Linked DNA regions of Homo sapiens: region 2 is linked to region 1. The links come from fine-mapping of genetic effects on gene expression. A gene starts in region 1. The other region holds a variant in brackets. All regions are shown on one strand. Distances are between the middles of the regions.

Region 1 (2,914 bases):
TTCCTATTGGGTACTATGCTCACTGTCTGGGTGACAGGATCAATAGAAGCCCAAACCTCAGCAATATATCCTTGTAACAAACCTACATGTGTATCCTCTGAATCCAAAATAAAAATAGAGTTTTTTTTTTAAAAAAAATGACTTTTGGATAGCAAAAGACTTGGGGTGGTTTGAGAGAGGTAGGAATTGAGTTGGATTATGAGATACATCTGGCCATGAAAGGGTAAAAGTCCCTGTGATGTGAGATGATAAAGGGAGGAGCTTAGACTCCTTATGGAAACTGAGGTAAATAAAAAGGTAGATTATGATGGAAATGGCCCTGCTGGTCTCTTAGAGGGTGGGAGAGAGTAACCTCTAATCAGAGTCTAATTTGAAGCACTTCATGATAGTAAGAAGGTGGTGTGCAGAGAGGGTCCATGGTGGTCTCACTAGTAGCACCTGGAGCTCTAAAATCAAAACAAGGGATGGGACAGTATGCCTTTCCTTTAAAGTCTGCTAAAGACAGGTGGAGCGCCGAGCCAATGTTGACACCTCCATCTGTTGTACATACCCTGGCATTTTGTCGCAGGTTGCATGATTTGTGAGTCCTCTTTAGATTTTAGCCCTCTCCTTCTCCACTCTGCATTTCTGCATGAGGAGTTTTCCCACCATCACCTGGGCAGGCTATGGGACCTGAAAGGTACTATCTCAGGTCCTGTCTGCCTAAACACGCTATACCACAATTCCCACTTCACCACGACCTCCCCATGTAGGCACAGTGCTCTCTCTGAGGCTGCTCCTCCAGGGGTCTAGTTTCAAGGGAGAAGCTGGCCCTTGGTTCCTTCTGTTCTTAGATTTCTAGACATATTGGGATATTTTATATGCACCATCACCAAAAGGAAGCAGGTCCCAGAGTTGCACACCTACACCTAATGCCTCTTCCCTAATTTTCACTTCCTGCCTCCGTATTAAAACCCTATACTTTCTTCAGAAAAACTGTTTTCATCCCTTCTAAATCTAAATGGTTTTAAATCCATGATCATTCACAAATCTTTGGTGATTTTCTAGGTCAAAGACTTTGGGAATTCACAACAAAACCATTTCTCTCTGAAGGACCTAGCTCTTGAAATTGAAAGCCAGATTTCTCAGACCTGATTTTGAAATTCAAAGTAAAAACTGGATTCTTCTGGCCTCATTCCTTTCATCTCTAAGAATCAATGGATTTCCAATGCAATGGGTAGAAGGCAATGAAGAAGCAAAAATTCCCAGAAATTAAAATTAAAATCCCACAACATTATCCCTCCATTTTACCATTATCGTTTGGATTGAATGGAGCCTAGTGTGTGGCTGGGAGGGAAAGCAAGTTGTCCGTCTATGAGGTCACAGCTGAAGTCACAAAGTATTGAAAATGGCAAGGTTGATATGGGAACAGGAGGCTGTTGTGAGATGGGGCTCAAATAGGAAAAAGTCTAGGGGTGAAGGAGTGGGGCAAAGTGTAATTTGGGGAACCAAGCAGGGTAAGTTTCTAGGCATAATTGACCTCGTTCTTGACTGGGGCTTGGAGGCCAAGAAGGGTGGGAGTGGGAAAAGTGGGAGGGAAACTTCTCAAAGGAGGATTTGTCTCCTGTCTGGGCCACTGCCTATGAGCCCTTCTTCTCTACAAAGCACTTTAAGGCTGGAGCTGATGGCCCTCCATCCTGAAACTCCTCTATCCTTAGTTAACCATGAAAATTCTGACTGAGGTGGGAGGGGGTGGGGTATTTGACAATCTTGCATTCACTCTACACTATTTCCTGTCCTTGCCTGAACTCAAAGACCCTTTGGCCAATCCCCCATCCCCAATCTCAGCCAACTTATTTTTCACTTAGATTCTCTCTTTTTTTTTTTCGTCTACTTCCTCACTGCAATTTCTGTTGTTACTGACAAAGACTATAGGAAGATTTTACCCAGGGCAAATACTTCCTTCCTCTTACCCTCCTCTTACCTTCATCTTTCCTTATGCATATGTACATGCATATGCACACATACATGCACATATATGCAAGCACACACATGCACATGCACACTCACCCATTCAAAATACAAATGCTCCATTAACTGCTGGTAGTTCTCCACTGAATAAGCGCTTTTCTTCTCACCATGTACCTGCCTTCTCCGCATATTCATTTATGCCTCTCCAGGGCCTGGAGCTATCTCCATCTTCAGCTCCAGAGTCCTTGGTTTCTGTCTGAGAACAAATGGCACAGCATCCCTGCCAGGATCAGGAACAAAAGGTAGAAATGACCTCCAAGCAGCAGAGAAGGTAATGGGGCTAATGATGACCCTCAAACATCCTTAGATTGCTATACTCTATGGGAGAAGAACCAGGGCCTCCTGTCTTCTATGGCTCTTCATTTGGCTTCACTTGCTTCCTGGCTGAATAAGATGGGGACTTTCATGTGTCCTCCCTCTTCTCCATCTCCTTAATGAAAGAGATAATAGCAAATCTTTGTCATTTTAATTTAGAAATCAGGCATCAATTGCAATTCCTCTAGGGGTTGGCGGGGTATACAAACTAGGGACATTAATTTATTCCAGGATTGACTTTGCCTAAGTCCTTTATATCCTCTATAGTGTAAATCAAGGTCAACCATCTAAAATCAAGCTTCTCTTGGCCTACAGTGGAAAAGAGGGCTAGAATCTGCTGCTTGAGGCTAAATATGAGACCCAGGTGATGGTATCCATGAAGTCAGAAAAGAAGGAGGGTTTACTGTGAACTTATGGGTCAGGAAAGCTTCATAAGGAATCAGAACTTGGCTTGAGCCTTTGAACTTGCAGCAGATGTTTTGAGATAAGAGTTTGTAGAAATTTGGGGCTGGGTGCAGTGCCTCATGCCTGTAATCCCAGCACTTTGGGAGGCCAAGGCGGGCGGATCACCTGAGGTTGGGAGTTCGAG
Region 2 (2,914 bases), 140 kb before region 1:
GTGACACATCCTTGATGGTTACCAGGCCCTGAAACAAAATGTAGCATCTTCTGTCAGCAGCTGTTTTTTAAGGAAAATGTGATTCAGTATGAAAGGCTAAGTTAGTAGAGGAGAGAGGGTGAGAAATGATCTGAGAAAAGAGCTGCCCAGAAGTCCCTGGGTAGGGCACATAGTTTTGGTAACAGGGAAATGAGGAGAGGAGTAAAGGTAGATGGTCAAGGAGTGAGTGAGTGTAATGTTACTGGAGGAATTTCCCAAGTGGGGCCATGAGAAGCTGGAGGCACCATAAACTCATCACCACCTCTGTTTAGCTACAGGTGTCTACTCAGTCACTTCTCCCTGGCCTTACTCTTTTTATGAAGAAATTATGTACCATTTCCTCCTTCTTCCACTGGACCCTGCCTTTTCTATCAGCACAAAATGCTACAGATAAAACATTCTTTCTTGCCTCCCTTGCCACAGCATTTTTTTTTTTTTGAGACGGAGTCTCACTGTCGCCCAGGCTGGAGTGCAGTAGCACAATCTTGGCTCACCGCAACCTCCACCTCCCAGGTTCAAGCGATTCTCCTGTCTCAGCCTCCCAAGTAGCTGGAATTACAGGCACCCACCACTACACCCAGCTATTTTTTTTGTGGTGTTAGTAGAGACGGGGTTTCACCATGTTGGCCAGGCTGGTCTCGAACTCCTGACCTTGTGATTTGCCCACCTCGGCCTCCCAAAGTGCTGGGATTACAGGCATGAGCCACCGTGCCTGGCCATATCTTTATATTTTTAGGCAGCACAGTATGGTGGTTAGGAGCTCAGAATCTGGAGCCAAGTGACTCAGCTTTGCCACTTTCTTGCAGCATGACCTACACAAGTGCCTTAATCTCTCCCTGCCCCATTTCCTCATCTGTAAAATTGGATAACTGAGTTGTTCTCAGAATTAAATGAGTTAATATACATAAAGCACCCAGAAAATGGCATACATGATAAACACTCTGGGGGTGTACTCTATTAGTACTAACACTATTAGTATTAGCTTTCCACAGCTCTCCTATTGCCTTCTGAATCTAAACCTAATTTCCTTTCTAGCTCTGCCCCTCTTTATAACCTTCTTCCTCTTCTTTTCCATAAATGCTCCCTCATCTACCCAATCCTTCCACTTTAGGTTCTTCTAAGCTTTCTTCAGGTCCTCTTTTCCTAATCTTTCCAGATTTATTTCTTAAAGGAAGGTAATTAATTATTCTTAAAATCCTCCTGTGGATAACAAACACAGCCATCCATTAAAAACCCTAACCTTGGCCAGGCACGGTGGCTCATACCTGTGACCCCAGCACTTTGGGAGGCTGAGGTGGGCAGATCACCTGACGTCAGCAGTTCAAGACCAGCCTGGCCAACGTGGCAAAACCTTGTCTCTACTAAAAACACAAAAATTAGCTAGGTGTGGTGGCGTGTGCCAGTAGTCCCAGCTACTTGGGAGGCTGAAGCACAAGAATCGCTTGAACCCAGAAGGTGGAGGTTGCAGGGAGCCAAGATCATACCACTGCACTCCAACCAGGGCAACACAGTGAGATTCTGTCTCAAAAACAAAAAACAAAACAAAACTCAAAAAAACCCTAACCTCAAGGAATTCCCTTTCTTGT[A/G]GGTCCATTTAATTTTCCAAGGGTCTTATGACCCCTTGGAAAGGGATAGAATCTATTCAGTTATAAGATGAACATACCATTGATGATCATGTGAGCCAACTCATCAATGGGCTGATGCGAAAGCAATACAAAGGCAGCAGTGATGGGACCACAGGAGACGCCAAGGGAAGCAGAGCTCACCTGTGATCCAGCCGCAAGAAGTGCAGCTGCCATCTCCCAGTCTCCAGTGTTCCCCTCCTGGGGAATTGCAGGAACCCAGGGAGCAGACTGAGCTGATAAGGAGAGAGAAGAAACATTAGAGAATAACGATCTACCCTTTCTCAATGGGGCCTGGGCCCCATTTTAGAGAGGCTTAAGGGTCACAACTTCTGTATCTATGCCCATTGGTAAAACTCAAATGCATAAATGTAGATGAGAAGGCCATCACTCAAAATGTTCTGAAAGGGTATCAGATGGCTTTTAGTTAGACTAGCTATAGTTTGAATTTACAGTACTTGAATGTAATTTTCATCTAGTAAATTACATCTTACTGAGTGGGTTATCCAACAGTAATCAGGTTGCTGTCACTTCCTTCATCTCCCTCATTCAGTATCACTAATTATGCATTTGCATGTGGAGGGAGTAATTATGAAGAAACAAGAGAAGCCCAGTTGCATGGTTTGCTGAATTCAGGAGCCTATTCTGTACCTGTGACCAGGGCTGAGAAAGAATGGGCTGGTCCTGGTACAGGTTATGCTATTTAGTCCATGGCAATTTGGAGATTTTTAACCCTACTTTTGGAATAAATATTAGGAGACTATGCACTGTGCTTCCCACACACTCTGTGAGTTCTCACCCTTCTCCTGAAGGGACTGTGGCTCCTCTTCAAGGTCACAGCACAGGTGCTCCAGAGGTCCTGGTACTGTTCTCCATGGCCGCTCTTCCTGGCTTCCCCTTTCCACCTGGGGCTCTGCTCCATCCAGCTGTACATTCATTGATTCCCATCCTGTCCCCAGCGCTGCTGTCTGTTCTGAAAGCATTTCTGCTGCAGACCCAAATTGTGACCTGGAACAAATTCATATCAGCAATGCCCATGAAAATGGGAAAGGAGTGATATTTCTAAGGGAGTTATGAAGAACAGGCCCAGGGATAATAGACAAAACTAGATAGGAGGAGCTTGCTGGAAGATGAACTTTAAAAGCTTGATGTGTTCCGATCAACGGAGCCTGCACCAAGCTTCTTGGAGGAACTAAGAAATTGGCAGGTGCTACGTAGCAAAGCCACTAACTGGTATTTTGTGGACCTCATTA

Evidence for each region. PIP is the estimated chance that this variant, and not a neighbour inherited with it, causes the effect. A credible set is the group of variants that fine-mapping cannot tell apart.
Region 2: its variant is the best candidate, but not a certain one, in a credible set for the expression of C12orf54 in tibial nerve (GTEx, PIP 0.55).

What each region holds. Positions count from the first base shown.
Region 1 is chr12:48,481,081-48,483,994 of GRCh38, forward strand. It overlaps C12orf54 (chromosome 12 open reading frame 54), which reads left to right and starts at 1,418. Exons shown (of 9, transcript NM_152319.4): 1 at 1,418-1,496; 2 at 2,160-2,281. The coding sequence starts at 2,217.
Region 2 is chr12:48,345,447-48,348,360 of GRCh38, forward strand. It overlaps ZNF641 (zinc finger protein 641), which reads right to left. Exons shown (of 6, transcript NM_001172681.2): 2 at 2,461-2,669; 3 at 1,806-1,897; 4 at 1-28. The coding sequence starts at 2,644. Among named protein-coding and RNA genes, the nearest start is that of ZNF641, 4.0 kb to the right of the region's middle. The variant A/G (reference allele first, on the strand shown) is at 1,626.